Linked DNA regions of Homo sapiens. The protein of the gene in region 7 interacts with the protein of the main gene of each other region in a biochemical or structural test. Each region holds a gene or a part of one and is shown on either strand. Other genes may lie near its edges. The genes, in order: APLP1, CHERP, TSHZ1, CPSF6, CYFIP2, DDX17 and APBB1.

Region 1 (4,230 bases), on a different chromosome or scaffold from region 7:
AGTTCAAGACCAGCCTGGCCAACATGCTGAAACCCGTGTCTACCAAAAATACAAAAATTAGCTGGGGCCGGGCGTGGTGGCTCACACCTGTAATCCGAGTACTTTAGGAGGCCAAGGGTGGATCACCTGAGGTCGAGTTCAAGACCAGCCTGACCAGTATGGTGAAACCCTGTCTCTACTAAAAATACAAAAATCAGCCAGATGTGGTGACACCCGCCTGTAGTCCCAGCTACTCAGGAGGCTGAGGCAGGAGAATAGCTTGAACCCAGTAGGCGGAGGTTGCAGTGAGCCCAGATCATGTCACTGCACTCCAGCCTGGGAAACAGAGCGAGACTCTGTCAAAAAAAAAAAAAAAAATTAGCCCAGTGTGGTGGCAGGCTCCTGTAATCCCAGCTACTCGAGAGGCTGAGGCAGGAGAATTGCTTGAACCCAGGAGGTGGAAGTTGCAATGAGCCAAGATCGCACACTGCTCTCCTGCCTGGGCGACAGAGCAAGAACCTGTCTCAAAAAAAAAAAAAAAAAAAAGACGATTCTGGGAAAGGCAGTGAAAATCCAAGGGACAGAACATAGGATCGACGGCGGGGGGAGTAGGAATCCAAGGGCCAAGAAGCAGGGGTCAAAGACACAGCATGTGAGGGTCCATGTTTCAGGGTCAGGAAGCTGAGCTGAGAGACTGGGAAGGGGCAGAGAAGCGGTGTTCAGGGGATAGGAAGGGGTCCAAGAGACAGAAAGAGGGTCTAAGGGACAAGAGAAGAGCCTGAGGCGCGGGCGTCTGAGGAATAGCGGCGCATTTGGGAGCTGGAAGGATGTGAGCACCTGGAAGCGCATCTGCTGTGCCTTCTCGGGATCCACGGCGGCCACATGCTGGTAGTGGCGCAGCGTGTGCCTCTGTTCCTTCTGCTCCGCACGCAGGTAGCGCCGCAGGGCCAACAGGACACGCTCCGCCTGTGGAAGGGACACAGGATGCCCAAGCCCGCCCTGACCCTTCTCACCCTCTGCTCTCTGCCCCCACGGTCCCCGCACCTGAGGCGGATCTGCCTGCAGGGCTGCCAGGAAGCCCTCCAAGGCAGCCCGGCGCTGGTCGTTGATAAGGGCGATGACGCGGGTGGCGTGGGTTTCCACCAGGCGCTGTCGCTCACCAGACACCTGCTCCTCCAGAGTCTGCAGAATGGACTGGAAGTGCTGGGGAGCGGGTGGGCACAGGGTCAGGAGAGGAGAAGATGGGTCAAAGCCTGGTCAAAGAGAGCCTGGAAAGGCAGGGCTACATGGGGTTGGGGGGCGTTCCAGGGGTCCAGGCCTGGGCAGAACCAAAGGTTATGGACTGGAAGGGGTGGGCTACAGGGCCAGGCAGAGTGGAGGTGGGACTAGGCCCACTGGGAGCCAATGTGAGGATGTAAACTGTAAGATTGAGTGGGAGCAATCTGGGAGCAGAACTGACCAATGTTAAGGTGAAAGGGACAAAGCCTTGCAGGGCTCCTGGCCTGGGCAGGGTCAAACTGGAGACAGGCTGTGTATAAATGACACGATAGGGGTGGGACAAAGAGCTGGAATGGGGGCTAACATGAGTGGGGTCTCCATGGGGTAGGTCAGGTTAATAAAGGTGAGATTGGCCCAGCAGAGCCAGAATCAGGGGGCGGGGCCTGATAGAGACATAAATGCATCAAAGAGAGACCAAGAAGGCCCTGGCTGCATCTGCAGAGGCCCTGGCTTGGGACAGGACTCCAGAGCCAGCCCTGAGAGGCAAGTCAAGTCTGTAGATGGGGCCGAATATGGCCAATCTGGGGAGGAGAGCAGTGTCAGGTCAGATGACGGCTAAGAGGGGCAGAGCTGCATGTAGGCATGGGGCCAGGAAAGGCTGAGATAGGTGGGAAGGGGTGGAACTGGATGGGCAGGGCACAGCCAGAGCCAGGTGAAACTGAGTGTGCTCCAGGTGGTGGACAGGCATGAGTAGGACCCACTGGGGCTGTCCTACCTCATTCAGGGCCTGTCTGTCGGCTTTAGGCAGGTTCTTGGACTGGTTGTCTGCCATGGCCCATTCACGCATCACCTGCATAGGGAGGGGAGCTTCAGGATCCCAGAATCCACCCTGATCCACCTGGCAAGTCCCCCAACCCCTCTTTAAGATTTTAGAAGCCCCATGGCTGGGCGCAGTGGCTCATGCCTGTAATCCCAGCACTTTGGGAGGCCGAGGTGGGTGGATCACAAGGTCAGGAGATTGAGGCCATCCTGGCTAACATGGTGAAACCCTGTCTCTACTGAAAACAGAAAAAATTATCTGGGCGCTGTGGTGGGTACCAGTAGTCCCAGCTACTCGGGAGGCTGAGGCAGGAGAATGGCGTGAACCCAGGAGGTGGAGCTTGCAGTGAGTGGGAGATCACGTCACTGCACTCTAGCCTGGGCAACAGAGCGAAACTCTGTCTCAAAAAAAAAAAAAAAAAAAGATTTAAAGGCCCCAGATCCCTTAAGTCTCGCTGGCTCCTGGGTTCCCAAGAGGGAAGATCCAGAAGGAGTTTAAAGTGAAAGAGAGGCCAGGCGTGGTGGCTCATGCCTGTAATCCCAGCACTTTGGGAGGCCGAGGCGGGTGGATCTCCTCCCGCCGGGAGTTCAAGACCATCCTGGCCAACATGGTGAAACCCTGTCTCTACTAAAAATACAAAAATTAGCCGGGCGTGGTGGTGGGTGCCTGTAATCCCAGCTACTCAGGAGACTGAGGAAGGGGAATCGCTGGAGCCCGGGAGGCAGAGGTTGCAGTGGGCCGAGATCGCACCATTGCACTCCAGCCTGGGTGTTAAGAGCGAAACTCCGTCACAACAACAACAACAAAAGAAAAAAAAAAAAACCAATAAAGTGAAAGAGTACCATAGACCAGAGTTTCCAGAGAACCTGGTAGCGTCTCAGTGGGATTCTAGAAGGGCCATGGATCTCTGGCCATCTTAGGGGGTGGTGTTGAGAGCTCAAGGTCAAAGGGGCTTAGGGAGCCTTTGGAGGTAGTATCAATGTGTCCTGGAGGAATTTCCTGGTATTTAGGGAGCTCTGTACTGTAGGGGGTCCTGGGGCCCCCAGTATTATCACCTCATTAATCTGGCGCATCCTACGCTCCTCCAGGTCCATCTTGGCCCTCAGGAACCCCTCGTGCTCACTGATTTCCCCAGGCATGCCAAAGTAAATATCCACACCGTCTGTGGGCCTCGGGGTGGGAGTGACTGCAAGACCAGGGATCAGGAGGTCAGTCTGCAGCCCACCTCCAGGTCGCCTTTTCTACCTAGAGAACCACATTTCCTAGAGTGCACTGGAGACCATCATGCACCCAGTTTAGCCACCGCTGCTGCCTGGCATTATGGGAGATGTAGTTCTGGACTGGGCCTGTTCTTGCAAAGCTTAGGAATCCATTACACCATCTTCCAAGCTTTCCTGAAATGATCCTCAAGACCTACCCAATGGCCCCTCTACTCCCAAGTACCCCCAAACCACCCCCTCCCTTGGCAGGTTAGCCCTTCTACTTCTATTTTATCCAAAGATACTCTCGTCTTTTCTCCTCAGTTGGGCCTTTCCCCTATAGGCCCCTCCCAAAGACACCCCCCAGCAAGACTCCCCCAGATCTTTCTCCCTCTATGGTGGAGAGGCCCCAGGGGTTCAGAGACTGCCTCACCTTTGCCGACCACTGCAAGTGTATGGGAGCTTGGGGGTGGGACCGTTTCCTCTTCCTCTTCAGCCTGCGGAGGCTCCACGAAGTAATCATCTACTGGCTGTGGGAAGGATTCCTCCTCTTCCTCGTCCTCAGCCCCCTCTACTCTGCTCCCCGGGGGCCAGGACCGGGTGGAGGGGTCACTGAGGGAGCAGGAGAGGACCCAGGCAGTAAGAACCCAGGCCTGGGCTCCCAGGCTTCCATCCCCTGCCTCAGGAACCTTGAGATGGGCATGGAGGGTTCCCTCCCACTCACCCAACTGCTGTCCCAGATGGGTCGGGGGTCCCTGGAGGGGGACAGCACACATACTCCACACCACGGAACCGATCCGAGCCACAGGGTAAGAGCATGCCCGAGCCGTGCAGGATGAGGCCCTGGGAGCTGCAGGCCTGTAGGAAGAGTGGGCCCAGATGCCAGGATTGTGGGATGGGAGGGGGTAGATGGGGAACTGGGCTGCCAGGGTTGGGGGTTGATGAGGCTGGGAGCCTGGATTCCTGCTTCTAGAGGAAGGGGTTGGGGGATGAAATTCTTAGATCCCAAGTGCG
Region 2 (4,230 bases), on a different chromosome or scaffold from region 7:
GTAAATAGCCACTGCACTCCAGCCTGGGTGACATAGTAGAGAATCTATTTAATAAAAGAATGTGCTTGTATGAGGGAAGAGTTTGACCTGGAGTGTTAACTGCCAGGGGAAAAGTTTGGGTTTTTTCACTCAATCCAGGGGTTTTTCTGATGCCTATTTAGGTTTGAGATGCGGGGGTGGGGTGGAGAGAGATCAGCTGCCTGAAATCGTAAGCAAAATATTGTATGTGCTTATGTGTTTCTAGAGCGATCCTTCCTTAGCCCCAGCACACCAAGTTTAAAACCGTTGCTAGGCCGGGCGCGGTGGCTCACGCCTGTAATCCCAGCACTTTGGGAGGCCGAGGCGGGCGGATCACGAGGTCAGGAGATCGAGACCATCCTGGCTAACACGGTGAAACCCCGTCTCTACTAAAAATACAAAAAATTAGCCAGGCGTGGTAGCGGGCGCCTGTAGTCCCAGCTACTTGGGAGGCTGAGGCAGGAGAATGGCGTGAACCTGGGAGGCAGAGCTTGCAGTGAGCCGAGATCGCACCACTGCACTCCAGCCTGGGCGACAGAGCGAGACTCCGTCTCAAAAAAAAAAAAAAAAAAACCGTTTCTAAAGGCAGCGGGAAGCCACAAGAGTTTTAAACAAGGGAGAGGGTGGCTTGGGTTGTGTGGCCGGTGGTGTAGGACAAGCTACAGGGACCAGCCTGGGGAGCAGTGAGGCCTGCAGGGGAGCAAACAGGGCAGTTGTTTAGGTGAGAGATGGTGGGGTCTGAATTAAGTCAGTAGGTTGAGCCTGAGGGAGGGAGCATGGGGGGCAGGTGGGGTGAAGGGGTAGAATCCATGAACTTGGGCGCCAGTTGCATATTGACGACCTGATGGTGTAATGAGCAGGGGAGGAAGACACCTCAGACGGTGCTTTGGCTTGGGTGACTGAGCTAAGGGCTGCTTTCCCTTTCTGGGGCGGGGGGGTGGCCACTTGGAAGCTGGTGCCATTATGAGGAAGGAGAGGGTGCTTATGCTTATAGCCCAGGAAGATTGAAGCCAAGAAGTGCTTTCTTTTTTTTTTGGAGATGGAGTCTTGCTCTTGTTGCCCAGGCTGGAGTACAGTGGCAAGATCTTGGCTCACTGCAACCTCTGCCTCCCAGATTCAAGCGATTCTCCTGCCTCAGCCTCCCAAGTAGCTGGGACTACAGGCGTGCGCCACCACACCCAGCTAATTTTTGTATTTTTAGTAGAGATGTGGTTTCACCATGTTGGCCAGGATGGTCTTGATCTCTTGAACTCATGATCCGCCCACCTTGGCTTCCCAAAGTGCTGGGATTACAGGCGTGAGCCATCGTACCCAGCCAAGAAGTGCTTTCTGTGGGTGATGATATCTTGGCTAGATGTAAAGGGTGTGTTGGAGTTGGCCAGGTGAAAACAAGGGGAGAAAAGTGTTCCGGGCAGAGGAAGGAGCCCTTGGAGGGAATGGGGAACCCAGAGCTTAGGGTGGCTGAAGCCCAGAGTAGGAGGGGTTCTTGGAGTGGCCAGAGGTGGGGGTGCAGAATTGGGAGCCTGGCTTGGGGAGGAGTTGGAGGCCTGGCTTGGGGAGGAGTCGGGGACCTGGCTTGGAGAGGAGTGAGGAGTGTATCCTGGAAGCGTGGGAGAGACTCGTGGAAGGTTTAGGTCTGTGTTGTGAAGCTGGGTTAGCCACAGTACAGCCAGTTCTGCACCCCACGCCTTAAAGCCTGGGCCTCAACTGTTGTAGAATGGAGCTTCACGAACTCTGTGGTGAAGGACCATTTCTGGTGTTGTGTTTTAAGTTTCTAACCTGTTGTGTGTGGACCAAAACTTCTGCAAAGCACAGTAACAATGTGGACCGTGAACCATCACGCTGCTAGAAAGGTTTTGAAATGCTCCCTTTCTGGTTCCATAACCGTCTGTCACCGCTGGGTAGCCCAGGGACCACTCCATAAGTGGCAATACCATGACTGCCATGTCAAAAAGAGGTAGAGGGATGGGACCTGATGCAGGAAGACCGGTTCTGGGGTGACGCAGGTGACAGCAGATCCATGGTGGTGACAGCGGGGACATAGACTGATTGGAGTGATGTCTCGGAGGCCGCCTTGACACTATGTGGCTCGTCACTGGGAGGCACATGCTACTTCTGGCCTGGGTTTCTGGGCAGATGGTGGTGCCAACCATGGTGCGGGGAGCACAGGAGGGGACATAGGTGTAGGGGGTGAGAGGAAACACAGGCCCCTTGGAAACACAGTGGGCCGTGCAGTTGGTGGTTAGGGCCAAAGCTCAGGAATCCAGAATGGAGATGATGGATTTAGGAATCACACCATGCACAATCGCAGCCACAGGAATGAGTAGCTCATGTTGCCCGGCGGTTGCGTAGAGCGGAGGACAGGGCTCAGAACACAGGCCGCGCACCCCAGCATGTGAGGGTCCAACGGGAGAGGGGTTGGTAAAGGGGGAGAAAGGGACTGAGGGGGCGAACACATGGAGGCCAAGGGAGGCAAGCACCTGCGACAGGCCCGGGGGGCTGAGTTGAGTGAGGGTGTCCTCAGCTGCCTGGGGGAAGGAGGGGGGTGCGGGGAGTGGCAAGCAGGCACCAGGCTGAGATAAAGGGGAGGTGAAGATCTGGAGTGAGTCTTGTCTGAGAAATCGTTTAGAGAGGGATCATGGGGTAAAGGGAGAAGTTTCCAACCCAGAATATTCTGATGTGTTTATTTATTTCCTTTTTTATTTTTTGAGATGGAGTCTCACTCTGTCACCCACACTGGAGTGCAGTGGCGCCATCTCGGCTCACTGCAACCTCCACCTTGCAAGCTCAAGCAATTCTCCTGCCTCAGCCTCTCAGGTAGCTGGGATTACAGGTGCCCGCCACCACGCCCGACTAATTTTTTGCATTTTCAGTAGAGACAGGGCCATGTTGGCCAGGCTGGTCTCGAACTCCTGACCTCAGGTGATCACCCGCCTTGTCCTCCCAAAGTGCTGGGATTATAGGCGTGAGCCATCATGCCCAGCCCAATGTGTTTAGATGCTGCTGGGGAGGGACGGGTAAAGAGGGAGGAGTTGGAGAAATAAGAGATAGAAGAAATATCAATAAGCAGTGTCCCTCAGACAGTGGGAGGGGTGGGATTCAGTGCAGAAGTTGGGGGTCATCCTGTAGGGTGGCTTTGGGTGCACAAACTGGAGGGCACAGTCAGCCCCGAGACTTGACTTGAGCGCCCAGTGAGGGGCGACACCTTCCACCTGACACCCCACCTCCCTTATCTTTGGCTTTGTCCTGGTCCCCTTGGAGTGGGGCTCTGGAGGGCTCCAGGGGTACCTGGTCACATTTAGACCAGGCGGCCCCAAGACGGAGAGAGAGGCAGGTCATCTTGTCCAGGGCCTCCTTATGAGCCGGGTCCCTTCCTCAGAGACCTCACCACCTGCCCCATCTGGCCAGAGTTGGGACCTGCGCCCACCCTGACCCAGGCTTCTGCCGGCAGAATGGGTGTCTCACTGCTGCCTCAAACTGGATGCACCCCTGAATGCAGAGGGGTCTCTGTCCCCAAGGGCTGGAGAAGCAAGGAGAGTCAGTAGAAGGACAAGGCAGGTGTGGGGGAGGCCGCAGTGTGCGCTCGGGGGTGCGGCTTCGTGCCTTTCTGGCCAGATGTGCAGAGGCCCGGTGGCTGTGACATCTTAACAGTCAATGGGTAGCTTAAGTGGCAGAGGTCAGGGAGTGGCCGAGGAGGTCGGAGGATGAGAGGTACTGAGGCCTGGGTTCTGCATCAGGTGGGGCCTAGGTGGGTGAGGAGGTGGGCAGGCAAGCTTAGCTTGCACCGGAAGGACACTGCGCAAGGACTGGATGGTGCTGGCGAGAGAGCGGCCAGGGGACTTCCTAGGTTCTCCGAGGAGGGGACGGCCCGAAGATGGAATGCTGAGGCTGGGATCCTGTGAGAGGGAGGGCAGGACCCGAGACTAGGAGGAGCTGGTTTGCGTGGGCATGAGGCTATGAACAGGCCCTCGTGGATGGTGAGTCCCTGGGGAGGGGGAGGCCCCTGTGGCTGAGAGGTGGCCAAGGGGACACCTAGACCCCCATCTGCATTCTCATGGGGCACCCCTCCTCCTCTCCCTCCAGTCATCTGCAAGCAGCAGACCCCGGAGCTGGAGCCAGCCGCCACCATGCCACCCCTGCCACAGCCCCCGCTGGCCCCCGCCGCGCCCATCCCGCCGGCCCAGGGCGCGCCATCCATGGACGAGCTCATCC
Region 3 (4,054 bases), on a different chromosome or scaffold from region 7:
AGCCTTGGCCAGGGAGCTCTTCTCCTTCTCAGGGGGTCTCTCCTCCTTCTTGATGTTGACCTTGCCCGTGACCTTCTCCACCAGCTCCTCCATGGCAGACACGTTGCTCTTGTGCGGTGGGGGCGTGAGGCTCCCTGGGGAGTGCAGGAGGGCGTTGTGCTCGGCGGAAGACAGCGACTTCACGCCGCCAGCATAGGACGGCTGCACCTGCACGCTCTGCACGGCCGCCGGCAGTGGCTTCACGGTGCCCGGGAGCTGGTAGGCTGCATGGATGCTGGGGTAGCCACCCCATGAGGGCGCACCATTCTGAGCTTTGCTAATGGCCGTGGAGACGGTATTCTCCAGGGACTTGAGAATGTCCAGCCCTCCCTTGGGGCTGTCGTCCAGGTCCTCCTCACGCAGGTACGGGTACAGGGTGCTGGGCTCAAATTTCTCCAAGCTGTCCTCACTCTCCTCCTTGATCTTCTCCGCGTCGCCAGCCACAGGCGGCTTCTCCTTCTCTGGCTCTTTCTTTTCTTCAGAAGTCGTGGACCCCGCGGGAGAGTCGGGCTGCTTTTTGATGCTGGAGGCCGGCAGCCGCGTGTGGGTGGTGGGCGGTAGTGGGATGGACTGGATCTTCTCTTCCACCACAGGGTCCAGCACCAACTGCTTGCCCTTCTTAGAAGCCGAGGTGGTCACTTTCAGGAAGTGCCCGGTGACCATCATGTGGGCGGTGAGCTGCTGCAGCGTGTCGTGGGAGCTGCCACACTCCATGCACTTGAGGATCTGCGCCTTGCGGGCCTCAAACTGCCAGGTGTAGCTGGCGCCATTCTGGTAGCCATAGCGGTTATTGGGCGTGACGTACGGGTTCGCTGCTTTCTGATCCTTGGCTGACTCACTCAGGGCCACCTCTGCGGCCATTCCTGCTGGCTCAGGGGAGCAGGGGGGCGCCAGGTCCTGAAGCGCCCGCTTTTTGGTGGAGGGGACCAGTTTGGTGATGGCTGGCACTGGCTCCTTCAGAGGCACTTTCTGGTAATGCTTGGTTTTGATCATGTGGACGCTGAGGTCCTGCAAGGACTCAAAGGAGTGTCCACAGTACATGCACTTCAGCACCTTCTGGGCATCCTCCTTCCCCTCCATCTCCATCAGGGAGCGCTTCCTGGGCTTGGACCACCTCTTGGTCTTCTCGGAGTCCTTGTCCCTGTTGTCGTCACGGTAGTGGCCTGTCTCGTTCATGTGCACCGTCAGTTCCACCAGCGTGTCGTACGCGGCACTGCAGTCTTTGCACCGGAACTTGCTGGCGCCCGTGAAGACGGAGCCGTAGAGCTTGTTGTTCTGGCGGTAGAGCTGCACGGTGCTGAACAGGCTGGGCTCAGGAAGCAGCCCATACGAGGACGTCTGCTGCAGCGTCTTGGCCAGTGCAGCCTGGTGCCAGTCGTACCCGGAGCTGCTGCTGGTACTGGTGGTACTGCTGTGGCTGGTGCTGGAGCTGCAGCTGGTGCTGGGCGTGCTCGTGGTGGGGCCAGTGGTGCTGACGGGGCAGGTGGGGGGTGTGGGGGTGGGGGCGGAGCTCTCCTTCTGGCTGGCATCGTTGGTGCTGGTGGTGGAACCCGACTTCTTTAAATCCAGAGCTAAGCTGGACCAGCAGGACTCGGAGAACAAGTTTGCATACACAGCTTTGATCTGTGCCAGGCTGTCCTGGGGGTACGAGACGCTGTCGGGACACTGCGGATCCTCCTTCTCTTCTCGAGAGGAAGAGCCTTTGAAATGGGCTAGCTGGTCGCTGCTCTCACTGAAGGGCGACCCGTAGCCGGCGTCCTGGTTAGTCGCAGAGCTGACTGGGGAGTTCTGGTAGCTCTGCGCCTCTTTGATCTCCGTCTCTTCATTGCACATGTACTCACTTTCCTGAATGTCCAAAGACAGCCCGTCATCCTCCACGTGCTCTTCATCTATTTCTGCTGCCTTCAATTCTTCCTCAGGAACATAAGCTAGGAGAGAAAAATGAAACCCAGTTAGAAGAAGTAAATCATCTTCAAAGAGACAGCCTCCCCAGCAGTTAGATGATCTTTAAAAAGATATTTGTCAGCCTAGCCCCCAGGACACAAGGCTACCCCAAGTTTACATATCTACCCCTTTGCAGGAGTTAGGTTTCAAAAGGTGCTGTCCCCTCCTGAGTGTGTCTTTAGCAAAGGGGACTGAGCTGGAGGATGATGTCCTGTGCTCGTCCCAAAGATGTCAGTTTGACCCTTGCAGCCTGGTGGGAAGGGCAGGAACTTGGGACTCCAGCCACCACCTGCCAAGTACCCCTCCTATAGGCTGTTCCCTCTGTAAGTGACCCAGGAGTCCCCTCATGACTTCCATATGGCAAATATTTGTAAACACCCATCGGGCAGGACCTGGTTATCAATTTTTAGAGCAGGATATTCACAGACAGTATATCGTTTCCATAAGTAAAAACACTCCTCAATGGCAAGCAATGAAAACACTCTGGTCTTCACCAAAAGCACCAACATGGCACCGCCAATCTCCTGCCTGGCAGAGCAAAGCGCCACCCGCATGGGGCTGCCAGACGGCAAAAGCCACGGTTGTTCACCAAGGCCCAGAGCAGCCTCATTGACTGCAGCCAAAAGCTGGAAGGCACCAAAAGGTCCAGTGACAGTTGGAGGGATGAACGCGGTGTGGCCCGTCCACACTCAGGCTTGGAAAGGGAGTTCTGACACGCACTGCAGCGCGGACGCACCTCGAGGGCATAGTGCTCGGTGAAGGCAGCCAGACACAAGAGGACATGTACTGCATGGCTCACCTCACGTGAGGGCCCTAGAGTTGCCACATTCATAGAAAAAGAAAGCAGAGTGGTGGCGTGTGCCAGGAGAAGGAGGGGATGGGGACAGAGTTTCCATCTGGGAAGACGAGAAAGTTCTGGAGATGGAGGGTGGTGATGGCTGCACATCAATATGAACGTTCTTAACGCCATGAAACTGTGCACTTAAAATGGTTAAAATGGTCACTTATACATTATAAATATTTTATCACAATAAAAGCTGTTTAATTACAAAAGCCCAACGGTCCACGCTCCAGCTGCCTACTACAGGCCCACGACTGCACAGCGGAGCGACTTCATGGGCTGAAGGCAGCGTTTCCCAGAGGGGCCTCCAGGATATGGAAGTTGTCCCATGGATGAGGCTGGAAGGCAGAGAAACCGAGATGAAACCTGGACTTGTGACTGCAGGACATGTCAGATCCTTCACTATGCAACACACCTTCCTAACTCCCAAGGGGAGACTACTGCAAGGAACACTGCCTCAGCTTCTTTGACCAAGGCACTTTTACTTACTTTTCCCGTCTCGAGGCAACAACTAGCTGGACTACAGTTCCATCAACAACTTGGGGTATTTGGGGTTCAGATATTTTGCAGAAAATCCCTATTAAAATGCATTCATCTGACCTGAGAGGGGTGTCTCATTAAATATCATCATTCATGATGACATCATCAGAGCCAGGGCCTGAGGGAACACGACAAGGAGCACAGACGTTTTCAGGGAGGACTGCTGGGAGGGACAGAAAACATCTTGGCCGCCCAAAGGGAGGATGCCAGGGGCAGCAGGGAGCAGTGTGAGAGCCTCAAAACCCGCAAATGCAGGGCTTCAGATTCTAGCAGCAGCCAGCACTCACAGGCACACGCATAATCACATGTGTACACACAAGCACACGCACACACACACACACAATGAGAGACGACTGAATCGGTCATGTGGAGAATCTTCTAGTTCAGGCCATCCCGAGTGCTTGCACACACTGCCCTTTTCTGCACACGACAATCTGCGCACCTGTGTTCACGCATTTCATGGAGGTATGTGGAAAAGCAGCAAAGCCAGGAATCACAATCCTGTTCACACTGTACTGTGAGTGTGGAAAATAACCAATCATGTAAGACCCCAGGCCTCAACTACGGGCATCAACATGTGGGGAATGTTCTAGATGATTCTATGACTCTCCCGTAAAATATAACGCTCATAAAATTAAAAGATAATTGCCAAGTTCAGGCACATTGTCATTAGCCTGTAATTATTAAAGG
Region 4 (5,020 bases), on a different chromosome or scaffold from region 7:
AAGAACTGTTAATGAACTATAAATGGGAGAAAAAGACCAACAACATCATTGGAAATCATTTCTAATAATTATTGTTTCATGGTAATGGCTCTGAAACAAAACTAGGAAGACTGGGAAAAGTCTGTCCATAAATCTTTTGTAAAAAAAAAGCTTCTCTCTTTCACTAAATTAGGTCTTGAACTGAGTCATATGTAGTGTGGCATCTGGCCAAAAAATATTCCTAATGATCTTCTCTTAAAGTTAAATGACCTCACAGGGTAGGGACGAGAGTCTCAACTAATTCAACACAAATAGGGATTGATCAATGGAAACATACAACAAACAGTAACAGGAAATCTAACAAAAATCTGAACCACAATTTTAGTGGAGGCATGGAAAGGGATCCCAGTGATGGTAGTATTATTTCTCATGTTCATATTCACTTGTTTAGAACTGTTACCTTTAATACTCTGAAGCTTGCAGGTAAGAAATCTGAGGCCTGATATTAATACCTGGCACAGAAATATCTACTGAAATCACTGAAACTGAAGTCTGTTACTGTTTCAAAAGTACCCCATAATGTTTCCAAGCTAACCAGTAAAATATTTTTGCTACAAACATTTTTACTTAAGTCTAGTAAGGTTAATGATCCTCTAAAACTAGACAAATGCTTTCTGAATCTTCCATTTAAAAACCATGTAACAGCCTGGAAATCTGTCAGGCCTCTTAATCCTAATTTTAGCCCAATTATCAGTCGCTTTAAAGAGCACCAAAATGTCAATACACAAGAAAACCACCACTATCTGGCTTAAAGATAGAATACAGACAACAGTCCAATTTCTGCTATACTGCATATTGCCAATAAACATTAACTACTTAAAACCATACACAATGGTTACCAAATAACAAATTAAACAAAAAAGACAAACTGCAAAGTCTTATCAAAAGTTTGTTTTATTTTCAATACAAGATAAATACCATGCTTGTTACTAGTGCAGTTTAAGGCCGACAATGGCCATATATCAAACTGCCGAACAGTCACCTAAATGCTAAAGAAAGGAAAGACAAAGTAAACATTAAACACAAAATTGCAATTACAAACATTTTAATAAAATGGAATGAGCTTTTTAATTGAAGCTAATATGAAGTCTAATTCTCATGGACAGCAAAAAAAAAAAAAAAAAAGTCTATTAGATCAATTATCACCTTACCTTTTTGCACAGAAATCTTATTGTGAAGTCACCATAGAGTCAATAGCTAAAATTTTAAGACTTTCTTTGGCCTTCTGATATTAAACAAATTATTTACAAACTGTGATCAGTAATTCGTGGATATTGGTAAAATGATACAATTTTTTGTTGTTGTTGTTAAGGGCTTTCCATTAAAAATTGTAAAACAACTTTGTAAGGCTGTACAGGGCTGTAAACTACTTTGCTAATATACCATGGGATGCAGAGGAAGGAATAATAGACCTTTTTTTTAAGGCTAAAGTTATCAATGTTATAGATGCATTCCTTAAAATACATTATGATTTATACCCAAAGGATCCTTTCCCATTAAATACCACCTGAGTACTACAATTTTCAAAGTAAAAAAATAAACATGAATTCACCATAGTTATTTTAAAATAATTTAACTTACAGAATGTTGAGAAGTGTTACGCAGTAACAGTGCGACAAAAAGAACACACTTTCAAAACAAAATGTTTTCGCTAAATGCAGGGTCTGTCCAATTATGAAATTAATGTAAAACATTTACACCCATGGCAGAGTTTTAGGATACTCCCACGTGAAAAAAACTCTTGGTAGTATTTACTATGCAGTTACCACTTCAAGATGTGTGTGACTTCAATTAAATTCAACCTAGTATTTAAAAGACTCCATTACAATATGTTAATACAGCAGGAAGTCTTTAAAGACATTAAAATCTGTCGTATATAATCAAGTATTTATACGTCCCATACAAAAACCATAGTAGCTGCATACTCAGTGAATGCCACAACCTGAAATTCTAAAAAAAGAACATTGGTTAAGACAAACCTAAATCAATCTGAACAGTGTTGCCTGAATATTTAGAATATTCACAAAAATTCATATTGCTTCTTTCTAATGCCAAGAAAGAAGAGTATAAGAACTTCCTCCCAGAAGCCTAGACATTTTAATACATTTTCTATTTCAACTTACAATGAAACTTTAATCCTGAATCTTGATTTATCTAAATCAAAAATCTCACATTACGAACACAAGGAATGCCATATGTAAGGCCACATCTTAATAAATTTATAATTTTTGGTTGAATATTTATTGAAAAAATCAGTCTAAGGCTTCTAAGAGTCAAGTTGCTTAAAAAAATAAATACACCAGTGTTTAAACTGAAGTTAAGGTTAAAAAAACGCATACACACACACACACACACACACACACACTGTAAGAACAGAAAAATAGAATGCTTTGCTACAAAAATCCCACTTAATATATTTTAGCACAAAAATGTCTAATATACACTGGATAAGCGTGCATTTACGTACATACAACTAGGGGAAACATTTACAGAGGGCTACGGGATGCAAATGAACTTAATGAGTAATAAAAACCAGTTGTTATCTGTAAAACAGAGAATCTCAATACTGTATTCTCAGTCAAGAATTAGAACATAAACTTCCTCTTAAGCTGAAGCTTAAAACACAAAATTGGAGCCATTTTAGAAAATACAGAAAATGCAATGATCATTCAGGTATGAAAACCAAAATGTCGAGAGCACTCCAACAGAAAAGTCTTGTAATGCATCTCATTGTATAAAACAGTATGTATTTAGATTGGCACAGTTAAATACATAAGGGAAAGAGAAAGTCTTTGCCCTTTCCACAATTTTCCTTCACTATAAAATATTATACAACATTCATTAAAACCTCCATGTTTATTTTAATAACTGACCTGAAACTAGTAAAAAATAAAGCAATATTCTCCACAGGAGAATTAAATGAAAATAGTATCTTAAGCTACAAGTTATCTGTGTATTCCAAATTGTCATTAACTGCTTAAGAACATTCTAGGTAAAAGGACCATTAAATGGGCTAAACTATGATCAAAAGCCACTGCAACTTACTCCAAACCTTATGAAAAGTGACAAAAAAAAAAAACACACATCTGCAAATTTACACTGGAATATGCTTTCCACAACATAGTTCCTTTAACCAAAAGCAGCACTTTCAATCCAAAGTGTTGCCTCAGAAGCAGTACCATTCAGGTACTGTATCACTCATCTGTTTAACTTTACTACTGGCTGAAAGGAATGTGACTGTATAGCACTAATAAATGCTATGTTTTAAAATTCAACTCGTTTGTTTTCACATCCACTACAGTTATTAACTAAGGAAAAAATGAAAAGGTCTCTGAGACACTGTTTTTGGTGTCTATGCAAGGATTTATCTCTTTGGATTGTTTTTACACATTAAAAAAAGGAAGAGTTTTCAAATAACATTAACCCATAAACAACTGAAGGGGGTATGAAGAACAAAACAAGGCCTGCAATTTTCACCTTTACTGCTATACATTCACGTGTTATCAGGTAGAGAAGGACTTTGCAAAATTACTTGGTCAAACCAAGAAGTTATTTCCTTCTGACAACACTTAAAATAACGGATTAGCAGCAAACAAATCTAGTACACTCACACTGTCTGTAACGAAAGTCATGTAATGAGATCAGCCAAGCAAGGAGAAGAGTGATATAGAAGGAGCAATTAAAAGGTTCCATTGATAAAATATGAAAAGGTAAATAAAGGATTTAATTAGTATAAAATTTCCAGTTTCATTTCAAGTGCAGTTAGATTTTTGTGATTCCATTTTTAAACTGTTCAAAGAAAATTTTATTTTCATGGACATTTTACTTACCTTTTAACCCTTTACTATTAACTAATTTCTCTTGTAATATTTATATGTCCATACTTCTTCGCATTAGGGCATTGTAGTCAAAATATTAAAAAGCCAAGAAATGACACAACAATATACAGAAAACAGGAAAATTTTGATACAACTCTAAAATAATGTTAAAAAAGCAACCGCATTTTCAACAAAATGCTTTAAAAAATCATTTCTGAAAGTGAACAGTTCTGATAAACATCAACGATCCCATGCACAGATACTTCAAACACAAAATATTTTAAAATAAAACTGGCAGTGATATGGGTAATTCAAAACAGCTAATTTTGTCAGAAGTGGTTTGATAGCAGACAAGATGAAAGTGAAGAACAGCAGTGGAAATTTCTGGAGGGTTTCTACAGTTGCACATAACACAGTATCTAGGGTATTTTAACACTTTAAGCATTGTCCTAGAATTTGGGTACTCTTTAACAACCAATGTGTATTAACAGAAGATCTCTCAAAGATAATCAGATCTTAAAAACATATTAACGTGCTCAAGAATTTTAAGTCAAATTTCTGAAGTAGTGATTTCAAATTACATTCCCATAAAAACACCTAATCAAGTTGACACCCTGCCTCTGCCAATTTTGCAATCAAGAACACATGCTAGTCAGGTGCTTTTAAAGTGGGCCTATATGTAAGGCAGGTTTGAAAAAAATCTTTGATTAAGTAACTATAGCATGAATCAATACGGTGCATGAATATACATAGTATTCCTTAAACTGTGCAGACACGGTTTATCTGTAATTTCCCATTACAAATACTGGGGAATACAACCGAATGTTAATGAACATCACATCCTTCAAAAATTTATACCAATTGGAAAATATAAGGCTCTCTTTACTCACATTTACCTGCTGCAGGGCTGTATTTACACTGACTATGGCTTAAGAAATAAACCATAAGATCAATAAAAACAGCAAGTAATTGCAGCATCAAATCGGAATTGTCAAAATTTCTTCAATGTTAGCGGTTCACAATTAAGTGTTTCGGTACATCTGTGTTGTAATTAACCTGCATTACACATCAAATATGTACGGGTTTTTACTTATGTGTTAAAACCTCTGTTTTTTTGACCCCTTACACATTGACTAGATTGCTATGTCTGTCAAATCTCTATT
Region 5 (4,230 bases), on a different chromosome or scaffold from region 7:
CCTAACATCTACTGCCTCTCAAGCATTTGTTAAGCTTGAGAGGCAGTGGTTGTGGGCTGGTGGGGGAGAAGAGGAGGCAGTGATGTTTTAGAGCTTTAGATGCCCCTATAGTTCCCATCCCTCTCCTACAAAGCCATCACTCTCCTACAAAACCTGCAACCTAAGCATGAAAAGTACGCTCGTGGCCGGGCGCAGAGGCTCATGCCTATAATACCAGCACTTTGGGAGGCTGAGGCAGGCAGATCACTTGAGGTCAGGAGTTTGAGCCCAGCCTGGCCAACATGGCGAAACCCCGTCTCTACTAAAAATACCAAAAAATAATAATAATAATAAATTAAAAAAATAAATAATTAGCCGGGCACAGTGGTGCATGTCTGTAATCCCAGCTACTCGGGAGGCTGAAGCAGAAGGATTCTTTGAACCTGGGTGGCAGAGGTTGCGGTGAGCTGAGATCACACGACTGCACTCCAGCCTGAACCTGGGAAGCGGAGGTTGCGGTGAGCTGAGATAGTGCCACTGCACTCCAACCTGGGCAACAGAGCAAGACTCCGTCTCAAAAAAAAAAAAAAAAGTGTGTTCATTATACAAACACAGTGTCAAGACAGGCCCCCGAGTGCCCACTTTCAACTGGATTGTGGCTCCTTGACTCCTCGCGTGTGATAATTGCCAGATCCCATACAGTTTAGAGACCTTGAAGGCCCTTCCCGGGCTACTCTCTAATGGAGAAGTTTGTACTGTTTGTTACAATCACTCTTGTCAATGCCAGCAGACATATGAAGACTCATGTTCCTGAGATACTACTCTTCCTCTGCTCTGGACATACATCTTACTAAAAGGAGAGGAAGTGTGAAGAACACAGGACTGGGATGCAGCTCGAGAGCCTCCCCTGCTGGCAGCAGCAAGTACTAATTAGCGCTTGGTTGCGGCTGAGTAGCAAAAGTCTAGCATCCGTGTGTCTGTATGTACGTATTCTTGTTTTTGATCCCGCTCTACTAAGGACTTTATGACAAATTAGCCACAAGTATCTCCTGGACAAATTTAGCTAAGTCAGAACAGCTGAGTTGAACCTGGCCTTTCCTAGCTCCAAAAGCCCACTGGAAAGTGTATGTGTTTTTTCCTTGGTGGTGATATGTGCCCCTTAGGGTCAACGGTCACGTCCCTTTGCAATGCCTGGCTTGGTGGTCTTAGCGGCTCTGAGAGCCCTCATCCCCTCCTCCCATGCCTTAGCAGGGATGGGATGCAGCTCACCACTGATGTTGAGCAGATGTGTGAAGAAGAAGGACTGTTTGTGAAAGTCCTCTATGGCGAGGACAATGGGTCCATCCAGGCTGCTCCTCAGGGTCTTCTTGGAGCCGCTTTTGTCTGCAATGAGTGATTCAAGCATGGTCCGCACCATGTACAGCTTGAAAAAGAAAGCAAGATGAGAAGGTCAGAAGCTGGCCCTCTACCCCGGGGAAAAAGGTTGCTTCATGTTGTATTTATGTATTTTTTTTTTTCTGCAGATGTCTGCTCTTAAAAAGCACTGTCCTAAGGAAGCACCAGTTTAAGGTTTGAGAAATAAATGTGGAACTGTGAAAACCTTCATGGCCAACCCGGGCCCCGTGGCATCCCTGGGCCAGTGGACCTGGCCACACCAGGTAGCTCCCTGCTCTGCTTGGCCAAGGGCGTGTATATCAGAGGAGAACCTCATTACGTGTCACCCTGGAGTCACTCCCTGCTTTCCCAGAGGGCCACAGATGCCATGGGTGGAGCACTGGACTGGGAGTCAAAAGACCGGGGTTCAAGGCCAGGCACTGCTGCTGATTTGCTGTGTGACCTTAGGCAACAAAGCCCCCACTCTGGGCCTCAGTTGTCTCATGTAACATGAGGGGGTTGGACCAGATGCCTTCTCACACCAGTCCCTTTCAGCACTAACATTCTGAGGAACTGAGAAATGGGATAAGATCAGAACGAACCCCCTCCCACACCTGTTCCTGACCCTCAGCGTTTTGACCCCATGGCTGAGCGATGGCGCCCCCTTGGTGGCATCAGCTGCACTGCACAGCCTGCTGAAGTTCAGGGTGGAAGGCGGGTTAACATTGGTACTTACACAGGAGGCTACTAGACAATTAACTCCCGCTTACAGGGTGCCTTAAGTGCAAAGGATGCAAGTGCGGTGGGGTGGTTCTCTTTGCTAATCTAGATCTCTCCACATCATTTGTCTGTGAATCTTAGGGCTGGAAGGGGCCTTGAGGAGCCAGGCTAGTCCATTCCTGCTGCCTCCTCGAGAAGGGTACCCAAACCAACCCAGCCAGGCGGTGTGATACCAGGGATCGGCAGCCTCTTCGGCCCTGTGTGCCACCAGTGGGGTGAAACAAAGCCCTCGGGGACCACTGGCAGGCCTAAGACATAGATAGGAGAGAAGGAAGAGGGAATGGGAGGGCAGGAGAGACAGGGAAGAGGGAGAGAGAGAAAGAGAGAGAGAGAGAGAAAAGCAAGAGGTATTGTATACGGTGGGAAAGCCGCCGCGACTGCCGGGGGCCACCTCTGAGACACTCCAACCTCCCAGCAACCGCGTTCGTCTTCGCTGCCTCTGGAGCTTCCCTGGGATCTCCCCCATCACATGCCTGGCACTGATGCGGGTAGAGCAGCCACAGAAACGTGTGACCCACCATCCCTGCCACAGGGCTTCCTTTGTGGGAAAGCAGCCACAGTGGCCGTCAGTGCCTCAGACAGTCCCCCATCTGCAGCCCTGTTGGAGGGCCTGTCTCACCATCCCTAGGAGCCGAGAAGCACTCTTCTCATGACGGCCTCTCAAGTCCTCAAAGGAAGAATCCAAGTCTAATCTGTTGTGGGTGCTGTCCAGTTGATATCCAACTCTAATTCTCTGAAAACTGGTTTCACCCATAAGAAGGTGAACTTTTTTCCCACGTACTTTTACTTAACAGAGCATTTAATTCACCAAAACAGTCTCTATCCCAACTATGCAAGATGCCCATGTCTACTGTGTCCTGAAGACCGTACCAGAGCCCTGGGTGGGTGTCAGGAGACCTGGGTTCTTGTCCCACCTCCACCTGGGACTCACCTTGTGACTTGGACAAGTCACTTCCCCTCTCTAGACCTCAGTTTCCCCATCCGCAAGAGAGGGGGAGGGCCTAGGTTTCTCTAATAGCGCTCCCAGCTCTGGTTGTCTACGAGTCTATTCAACATGTCTGTGCCACCTAGCATGACCTGGTAGAGGTTGGGGGTGAGGCGGGATTTACTGCTGGTGACCCACCCCTCTCACATTATCTACACAAATACTCCTTCCTCTCCTCTCCTTTTCTCTCTGCCTGTTAAGTCCCCTCCTCCTCCTTTCCAGTGTCTTTTGTGCCTTGTCTGTCTCTTGCTCACTCATGTCTTAAAATTTACAGAAACACTTGAAAGCCCTGCTCAGTGTCTCCCGGACCTCAACCCTTGATATTACACAGAACTGTTTGCAGACGCTTCCTTGGGGCGTTCTACAACCAGCCGGTGAGATTGGTGCAAACTAGCAGAGGGCTGTGAAGCCAAGGGGAGTTAAGATGACCCTGCCGAGAACCCACCTCTCCCCTGCCCCAGCCCCCAGCACAGACACAGACGCACACACAGGGAGAAGGGTCGGGGGTGGGCCTCAGATGGTCCATCTTGGGTGACTGAGAACAGAGAGAGGCTTAAAGGTCATGGGAAGTGAGGCCTGTGAGACCCTTAAACTTGCAATGAGAACCATCTGCTTTTTCCAGTACATCAAAAATATTACCAGAAACTACCTATCCTTAAGTAGGTAGCAGGGATTTAACGAAGATGCCCAGATTATTGACTTTTTTTTCTGTAACGTTATGACTGCTCTGGATAAGCCACGGGCGACCTCTTGTGCAGAAGCTCTGGCTGGCAACTCTGAGTGTTTCCAAATACTAGACTTCCTCTAAGGGGACAAGGGCTTTCAATACTTGCACTTTTGGAAGGATGTGGAACTAAGGAATATTTTGTTAGTAACACAATCTCATCCAAAGTTTTCATTTTACAGAGAAGATAATCAGAGCTCAGAAAGCTCAAGGTGCTTGCCCAAGATCACACAGCAAGTCAGAGGCAGAACTTTTAGGGGAAAGGGCCAGGACTTATTAAAGAGGGGCAGCATAGATGCATGCAGATAGATTCCACTTTAACCTCCTCCTCCACTTTGGAATCTATACTTCATAGGACTAGAAGATAGCCAGGCAAGGTGGATGTGGT
Region 6 (3,917 bases), on a different chromosome or scaffold from region 7:
ACCTGGCAGTGAATTCTAACTAATCTGCATGAAAAGACAAATCACGATGGTTGGGGGGAAAAATTAAAAAAAAAAAAAGAAAAAAGGAAAAAAAAAGAAAAGGCGAAGAGGAAAAAAAAAGGAAAGACAGTGTTCCTTAAAATGTAATTAAGTCTGCTGGAGTCACTACCACTTGAGTGGTTTCATTTACGTGAAGGAGGAGGAGGGGGAGGAGGAGGAGGGTATTGGTAGGCAGTCTGCCCCATGTAACCTATCATATTGGTAGCTCCCGGAGGCTGTGCAAACTGTTGTGACATCAGTGGCTGTGGCTGCTGCCCAGACCGGCCTATCCCACTAAACTGCTGGCTAGAGCTCTGTGAACTTCTCCCAGTTGAGGTGGTGCTACTAGCTCCATAAGTGCCAGCACCATATTCTTGAGCTGTATAGCTACTGGTGCCATAAGCAGCTGCCCCATAGGTGCCTTGACCATAGGTGTATTGGCCTGCTTGTGCTCCAAAGGCAGAATTTGGACTTCCATAGCCACTGCCATTAGCATAACCAGCTCTATCGGTTTCACTACGATCCCGATAGCTTGCAGAGTCTCTCCGGCCACCATCCTTGACTCCTCGAAGCCTTCGGTCACACTCATCCTGATACATCAGATTGGGATTGTTGGCTGAAGAAGTGGTCCGGTAACGAGAACGACCACCTAATGGGAAGATACAAGAAGATTTTTAATGGCAGATATAGGACCTAAACATAACAATGTAAAAATTCTACTGGGTACAAAAGTATTAAACATGTCTCCTTGATATTTAGTTATGCTGGCCAGCCTCCCAATTAGTACTGTAAAAATATACTCATAATTTGATTCTTTAATGGGGCACATTCAAAAGCACAGTAAAAATTAAAGGACACTAGACCTTTTCACCCTTTTAGGCCCCTTACTTGAGGATGATCAAGAAACACGGTATTACAATATGAAACCTTGAGTCAGGAAGCCCAGATCCTAGGATATTCTGCAACTGTAGATGCAACTGCTATGTCTCAGTTTCTACCCACCACTAAACAGTGTAAAATGACTGACCTCTCCGTATGGAAAACTGGAAACCTAATATACTACTAAGCATTTTTGAAAGTATTAAAAAAGCAACCATGACCGGGGGCACACTGGCTCACTCTCGTAATCCCAGCACTTTGGGAGATCAAGGCAGGAGGGTCACTTGAGGTCAGCAGTTCAAGACCAGCCAACATGGTGAAACCCTGTCTCTACAAAAAATACAAAAATTAGCTGGACATGGTGGCACATACCTGTAGTACCAGCTACTTGGGAGGCTGAAGCAGGAGAATCACTTGAACCCAGGAGGCAGAGGTTGAAGTGAGCCGAGATCGTGCCACTGCACTCCAGTCTGGGCAACAGAGTGAGACTGTCTCTGCCCCCGCCCCGCCAAAGCAACCACATTAAAACTCAGACCAGCCTCAGCTAGGTTTGGTGGCTCACTCCTGTAATCTCAGCACTTTGGGAGGCCAAGACAGGTGGATCACCAGAGGTCAGGAGTTCGAGACCAGCCAGGCCAACATGGTGAAACTCCACAGACCAGCCTCAGCTAGGTTTGGTGGCTCACTCCTGTAATCTCAGCACTTTGGGAGGCCAAGACAGGTGGATCACCAGAGGTCAGGAGTTCGAGACCAGCCAGGCCAACATGGTGAAACTCCACCTCTACTAAAAATACAAAAATTAGCAGGGTGTGCTGGCGGGTGCCTGTAATCCCAGCTACTTGGGAGGCTGAGGCAGGAGAATCACTTGAACCTGGGAGGCAGAGGTTGCAATGAGCTGAGATCGCGCCATTGCACTTCAGCCTGGGCGACAGAGCAAGACTCCGTCTCAAAACAAACAAACAAACAAAACCAAACCTCAGACCAGTCTCTAAGAAAAAAAAATTCACAATTTAGCTTAACTAATAGGACTATCACAACAAACTTCACGTTTTCTTAGTTGAAAAAGGTTATAAAAAGCATTAGGCAGTGTCCTTTGCTATTAAGCAACATACTTACAGCCTTCTTAAAAACAGCAACTAAAAGCAAGTCACAGAAGGCGTAAAGAGATACCTTGGCAGTACCTGGAAAACTCCAGGACTTACCCTTACCCCCGCCTCCGCCGCCTCCTCTGTGGTCCACAAGCTGCATCAGTTTTGGATTGATAGCCTGATTGGCCTCTTCCAGCACTTTGATAAGCTCTCTGGCCTGTTTTAGGTTCCCTGGGGTGAAGAAGGTATAGGCGGTACCCTTGTTGGTGCTACGGGCTGTTCGGCCAATACGGTGCACATAATCCTCTGAGCTGTTTGGATAGTCATAGTTGATCACAAACTTGACATCTTCCACATCTTCCACGTCAATGATGAGTCAGTGTGTAGGTTGATGTGGCAGGGAAAGAGAAGGTAAAGGACATGCCAACAACAGGTGGGAAGCACGAATGCAGATGACAGCAAGAGGAAAGAAGGTGAAGTTAGTAACCACTCTGAACAGAAACAAAAAAAGACTCATCCCAACAGAGTAAAAGAGGATTACTGATTCCTGGGACATGCATAGGAAATAGGATCTTTATTGGCTGTAGAATCCTAAGGGAATCCCATCCAAACATCCAAACTCCTGCCTCTGCTACATTTTACCAATATACTGACAGGAGTTACACCAATATTGGTCTTCAGACGCAAATTCCAGTACTATCCTTTACAAAACCAGAACATAGAACAAAGTGGTAAACCACTGTGAAGTTATGAGGCCAAATCACTTCTACTCTGTTGGGAGAAGCCTGGCAAAATCTACCAACAACATAACAAACTTACCTTTAAACCAGTCACAGAGCAAAGTAAAAAAAGGAGCTTCATATATTTTATTACTACAATTTAAAGGAAACTTAAATGTTTTGATTAACATTTAACTTTTTTTGCTCTTATCTTTTTAAGAAACTGAGTAGAGCCAAAGCTGTTAAGTACACACCTATTTTCCTTTGCAGAAACATCCAGATTATCTATCCCCTTTCAATTACAAGAGCACATTACACTAAAATTTTACTGTACTACCAAGCCCAGCTTCTGCCAAAATGAGGATATTTTTGCTCAACTCAAGGTTATTTCAACTCAGGACTTGTTTCAATTATCAATGATTGTCTACGTGACCTGGGAAATTAAATTAATAGCCAAAGAACGTGGGAAAACCATGAAACCTTGAGACACAAGTTTAGTATTCTCTCTACTGCTGGGAATTGGGCTGAATAACCTCCTAAGGCTTAAAATGTAAATGTTAGTGTAATGCTTTCAGCTGAATGTATATTTTTACCTACTTAAACAAACAATTTTAAGAATATAACAAAGAATCCTACTGTTTTGTGGAAAAAAATCTGCATTTTACAAAGAATATTCAGAAAATATCCTAGATAAAACACAGATTTTTGTGATATAAATAATTAAAAAACATTCTCTGTTTGTTACCAGACCGATGCACACTCCCTCCTCCTTTGGGAAACCGCTGCAGCCGATCCCGTCTCTTTGCCTTTTATTTTTGGCGGCCTCCTTTCGAAAACTCCGCCTTCTGACACGGGACCACTGGAGCGCGGGGAGCATGCATCAAGGGTCCGTGGCAGTGAGAAGTCCCCACACACGCTCGCTCTGTGAACTGGCTTAGATGCTTCTCTGTAGCCCCATTTGGTTGCCAAGCGCCGGAGAACCTGGGTTCGGGTAAAAATTTCAGGTCCTCCAACGCCTCCCCCAAGGATAATTGGGGTGATTGTAGAAAAAAATAATTAATAAAAAAAAATGTAAGTTACATCCAAAGGGTCAGACTGCATCTATTGCCCAGACTGGATTAATTTCAAGGGAGAAAGGGGAGATTAAAAAAAAAAAATTAGCTGTTGTTACAGGGCTTGTGAAGAAGGGGCA
Region 7 (4,230 bases):
CCTTAGCCTTTCAAAATGCTGGGATTACAGGCGTGAGCCACTGTGCCCAGGCTCAATCCAGCCTTTTTTTGGCAGGATATTTAATGATATTAAAGAATTATTATTAAATTTTTGTAGGTACAATAATGATATTGTGGTGGGTTTTTTTTTTAAGAGTTTTATCTTTCAGAAATGCAAAAGTAAACTGTTGTTGTTGTTGTTGAGAAAGGGTCTCTCTCTGCCATCCAGGCTGGAATGCAGTGGCTCAATCATGGCTCACTGTAGTCTCGACTTTCTTGGGTTCGGATGATCCTCTCAGGTCAGTCACCTGAGTAGCTGAGACCACAGTGGCTGATGCCTCCACTCCCGGCTAATTTTTTTGTCTTTTTTATAGAGGAGAGGTTTTGCCATGTTGCTCAGACTGGTCTTGAACTCTTGGGCTCAAGCAATCTACCCATTTTAGCCTTCTAAAATGCTGGGATTACAGGTGTGAGCCACTGCACCCAGCTGTAAACATTTATAGATAAAAGTATTTGCTTCAGAATAACCTACGCTGGGCCTAGGAACGGAAGAGAGCATGCAGGTAGCAAGATTAGTTATGTATTGATAATTGGTAAAACTGGCTCGTGGGTAAATCAGGCTCATTATTCTTTTCTCTCTATTTTTGTGTATGTTTGAAAATGTCCAGAATGAGTTTTTCGAAAGGGGATGGTGTGCAGCCCTAGGCTCATCTGAACTGCATGTTCTCCACAAAGATTGCACAGTTTGGGGTATGGGTATTGTGTCCGCCACCTGGTAAGGATAGGGGTCTTTCCTAATCTTTCTTAGACCTCCATCTACAAAACTCCAGGGTTTTGGTTGTAACTATAGCCCATTATCTCCACTCTTTGTTCCTCAGCTTTTCCTGTATTCGCTACACGACATTAGAAAATGTGGAGACTCAGCTTAATTTAAATGGACATATTTAATGATTAAGCCCTGGAGTCCTAGTATCTATTCTCCTCCCCCTACCCAAAGGGTTTTCTTTTCTAACTTTTAGTCAATATCCTACTCCTGACAAAACTGTATCCTTGCAATGGTGCTGGAGCATGTGGATTATAAGCACACAACATTCCCAGTCTTTCCAAACAGACCTCTGTGGGGAGCTGCTGGCTGCTCCCAACAGGCGTGACCTGTTAAAACGGGGCAGACTGGCGACAGAGTGAGACTCTGTCTCAAAAAAAAAAAAAACGGGGCCGACTGTCCCAAGTGCACCTGAGTGCATTGTGCTCTATGCATTGGCGGCAGCATAACACGGGGCCAAGAGCTCAGGCCTGGACTGAGACCTGGTTTAGATTTCAGCTCTATTGTAATCTCAGCCTGTCTGTGGTCTCGAGAAAGCTACTAAACCTCTCTGGATCTCTTTTTTGTTATCTGTAATATGGGAATCATCATAATATTTACCTCACAGCTTTATTGTAAGGATAAAGCCTGAAAATGCTGAGCAGAGGGCCAGTTACCTAGTCAGTGCCCAGTAAACTAGTCCACTTATCAACCATGGTGGCATGCATAATGAATAGATCCATCCATCCGGGCATGCATGATGGTCAGATCTACCAGAATGTCCAAGCACTCTCTGAATGAAAAAGCCTGGACATGGCCTGCTGTGGCCTCAGGGTATGGGCTCTCAGCTCACATCAGGCTGGCACTGGCCTCTGTATGAGAGTCCTAACCTCTGCCCTCACACCCTCCCACATGCCCATGTCAAGCTCCACAAGGTACCTGTGTCCTCTGGGGAGCCATAGGAGGGGCTGCCCTGGGATAAGGTAGCCCAGCTTGAGTCCTCATCACTGGCTGCACTGTTCCGCATGCCAAACAGGAGGCTGGCACTCTTGCTGTGTTCCCGGGGGCCATCTGTAAGGGCTTGGGGCCTGGGAGGGGCCTCCACACTCTCCAGGGGCTCAGGCAGCCCTGGGGGAGAAGATAAGTCCTCCTCCTCCTCTTCATCATCATCATCCTCCTCCTCCTCCTCGGCCTCCCCGGCCGCCTTCTCCTCTCCCTCATCTGGCCCCTGCTCTTGAGTGCTGATGATCAGGCCAGGTCCTCGTAGGCCTCGGTTGGCTGCGTTGTGAGCTGAGAGCTCCAGCTCAGAGTACAGGTGTATCAGGCCTTTGGGGCCCAAGGGTGCCATCTCAGGCTCCTGGCTGGCCTCCTCCGCCAAGGTCAAGGTCACATTGCGATTCTGGTCACGGTGGGCCGTGGCGGCCCGCCGGAGCTGGTTCTGGCCCTCTTTTAGCCACTTGGCATTGGCAGGGCCTGGCTCAGGCCCACCACCCTCCCCCATGGCGCTGCGCAGGTCCTTGGGTCCCACAGCTGTGGCCTGCAGCTTGGCGTTGAGCAGCTGGTTGTGGGCAGCGTGCAGAGGCAGGGGTAGGCTCAGTGCGGGGCCTCCGTGGCTGTTGGCATTAATGGCCGACTGGCTCAGTGATGATGGAACAGACATGGCCTTGGCAGCTCCTGTGGGGTGCGGAGGGGAGATGCTGTTGAGCCTCTGGTCCAGAACAGCAGCATCACTGCTTCTGCCCCAGGGCTATGCCCTGTGCCTCCTCATCTCCCTGCACTAAGCAGGCTAGCACCCATGGCTCTCTATCCTATGAGAATGACTGGGTTCAACTTCTGTCCCAGCACTATCATCCCCATCACAGTCCAGGCCCAGGTCTGAGGCCCACCCCATCCCTATATCCCCTGCCCTGAGCTTTCTGGGATGGCACAGCTGGCGCCTGCCCTCGGTCCCACCAGCAAGGCCTCCACACAATGGCTCTCTGTGCCTCCCCACCCCCCAGCTCATCCACCCGGGGCTTACTGTGCCAGGAACACCACTAGAGTGGGACCGGCTCGTGTGTTTTGGACACTGATCACTGACTGCCCCTCTCCGGCCGCACTTCCATCCCAAGCCCCATCACTGTAAGCTCCTCCGGCTGTGTTCCTATTCCCATAAATCACTCAGCTCAACCAGCCCCCAAGCCCACCCCATACTAGGGACTGTGAGGACAGGAGCAAATAAGCTGCAGAACCAGCCCTACAGGGCATGGCACTGGAAGGCAGGTCACAGAGGGAGGGCGCTCGGCTGCAATTCATGGCTTCTCTGGCCAGATGAAGCTACATCTTGGTGACAATTTCCATGAAGTAGCTCCCCTTGGGCACTGGTCCCTCTGCCAGCCCTCATAATGCCCTGTCCTGGATCACTATGGGAGCCTTTCCCCTGGGCCCCTCAGCCTTTCAGATCTTTGTTTTTTGGGGGTTGTTTGTCTGTTTGTTTGTTTTTGAGACAGAATCTTGCTCTTGTTGCCCAGGCTGGAGTGCAATGGCACAATCTTGGCTCACTGCAACCTCTGCCTCTCGGGTTCAAGTGATTCTCCTGCCTCAGCCTCCTGAGTAGCTGTGATTACAGGTGCCCACCACCACGCCCAGGTAATTTTTGTATTTTTAGTAGAGACGGGGCTTCACCATGTTGGTCAGGCTGATCTCAAACTCCTGACCTCGTGATCCGCCCACTTCGGCCTCCCAAAGTGCTGGGATTACAGGCATGAGCCACTGCGTCCGGCCCAGCCTTTCAGATCTTTGACCAAATGTCACAGCCTCAGTGAAGCCTTCCCTGAACACCCATTTTAAAACCACAGGCTACCTCCGCCCCTCCTCAGCAATCCCTAAACTCTTCCCCAGCGCCTGTCACCATCTGACAAGCCAATTTATTATTTACTTTGTCTAATGATTGTCTCCTCATGACTATAATTTATAATTTCCATGTTGGTGAGGATTTTGCCTTTTTGGTTAAATACAGTATGCCTAGTGCCTAGCGTAGTCCTGGCACAGAGCAGGAACTCCATTAATATTTGCTGAATGAATGTATGAATCAGTCCCCATTTCCTCCAGGCTTCGCTTTGGCATCTCCTCTGCCAGTGTCAGAAAACACTTTGGTTACGTTACTATGCCTTATGGTGCCCCAAACAAACTCCACCTGCCTCTCAGGTAAGAGGACGTCCTGTTCCGCAAGGACAGCTCCCCCTCCAGACCCCTCCCTCTGCCTCCTCACAGCCCTTCGTGGGTCAGTTTCTCCGCAACCATTTGAGTCCCAACTATCCTTCCAGCCCGCCACCCAGGGACCCACCCTCGGCCCCATTCCATCCTCCCCACTCTCCCTGACCTTCCAGTTGCTCTGCTGCTCTCCTTCCCGGACCCCCAAGAGAAAGTGCTCTCTCCCTGGACCCTCAC

Evidence for each region.
Region 1: the proteins of APBB1 (region 7) and APLP1 form a complex in vitro, tested with the Homo sapiens proteins (one study listed by BioGRID).
Region 2: the proteins of APBB1 (region 7) and CHERP form a complex in vitro, tested with the Homo sapiens proteins (one study listed by BioGRID).
Region 3: the proteins of APBB1 (region 7) and TSHZ1 form a complex in vitro, tested with the Homo sapiens proteins (one study listed by BioGRID).
Region 4: the proteins of APBB1 (region 7) and CPSF6 form a complex in vitro, tested with the Homo sapiens proteins (one study listed by BioGRID).
Region 5: the proteins of APBB1 (region 7) and CYFIP2 form a complex in vitro, tested with the Homo sapiens proteins (one study listed by BioGRID).
Region 6: the proteins of APBB1 (region 7) and DDX17 form a complex in vitro, tested with the Homo sapiens proteins (one study listed by BioGRID).

The regions. Positions count from the first base shown.
Region 1 is NC_000019.10:35,871,456-35,875,685, reverse strand, and holds part of APLP1 (amyloid beta precursor like protein 1 isoform 1 precursor), read right to left. Parts: intron 4,075-4,230; coding exon 3,941-4,074; intron 3,829-3,940; coding exon 3,650-3,828; intron 3,204-3,649; coding exon 3,073-3,203; intron 2,048-3,072; coding exon 1,973-2,047; intron 1,183-1,972; coding exon 1,024-1,182; intron 946-1,023; coding exon 817-945; intron 1-816. UniProt on the Homo sapiens protein: May play a role in postsynaptic function. The C-terminal gamma-secretase processed fragment, ALID1, activates transcription activation through APBB1 (Fe65) binding. Couples to JIP signal transduction through C-terminal binding.
Region 2 is NC_000019.10:16,535,508-16,539,737, reverse strand, and holds part of CHERP (calcium homeostasis endoplasmic reticulum protein), read left to right. Parts: intron 1-4,101; coding exon 4,102-4,230. UniProt on the Homo sapiens protein: Involved in calcium homeostasis, growth and proliferation.
Region 3 is NC_000018.10:75,283,361-75,287,414, reverse strand, and holds part of TSHZ1 (teashirt homolog 1), read right to left. Parts: intron 1,968-4,054; coding exon 1-1,967. UniProt on the Homo sapiens protein: Probable transcriptional regulator involved in developmental processes. May act as a transcriptional repressor.
Region 4 is NC_000012.12:69,270,254-69,275,273, reverse strand, and holds the end of CPSF6 (cleavage and polyadenylation specificity factor subunit 6), read right to left. Parts: 3' UTR 916-5,020; downstream 1-915. UniProt on the Homo sapiens protein: Component of the cleavage factor Im (CFIm) complex that functions as an activator of the pre-mRNA 3'-end cleavage and polyadenylation processing required for the maturation of pre-mRNA into functional mRNAs.
Region 5 is NC_000005.10:157,321,093-157,325,322, reverse strand, and holds part of CYFIP2 (cytoplasmic FMR1-interacting protein 2), read right to left. Parts: intron 2,382-4,230; coding exon of another isoform or gene 2,307-2,381; intron 1,403-2,306; coding exon 1,249-1,402; intron 1-1,248. UniProt on the Homo sapiens protein: Involved in T-cell adhesion and p53/TP53-dependent induction of apoptosis. Does not bind RNA. As component of the WAVE1 complex, required for BDNF-NTRK2 endocytic trafficking and signaling from early endosomes.
Region 6 is NC_000022.11:38,485,753-38,489,669, forward strand, and holds part of DDX17 (probable ATP-dependent RNA helicase DDX17 isoform 1 precursor), read right to left. Parts: intron 2,364-3,917; coding exon 2,127-2,363; coding exon of another isoform or gene 2,121-2,126; intron 689-2,120; coding exon 183-688; 3' UTR 1-182. UniProt on the Homo sapiens protein: As an RNA helicase, unwinds RNA and alters RNA structures through ATP binding and hydrolysis.
Region 7 is NC_000011.10:6,408,887-6,413,116, forward strand, and holds part of APBB1 (amyloid beta precursor protein binding family B member 1), read right to left. Parts: intron 2,476-4,230; 5' UTR 2,462-2,475; coding exon 1,741-2,461; intron 1-1,740. UniProt on the Homo sapiens protein: Transcription coregulator that can have both coactivator and corepressor functions. Adapter protein that forms a transcriptionally active complex with the gamma-secretase-derived amyloid precursor protein (APP) intracellular domain.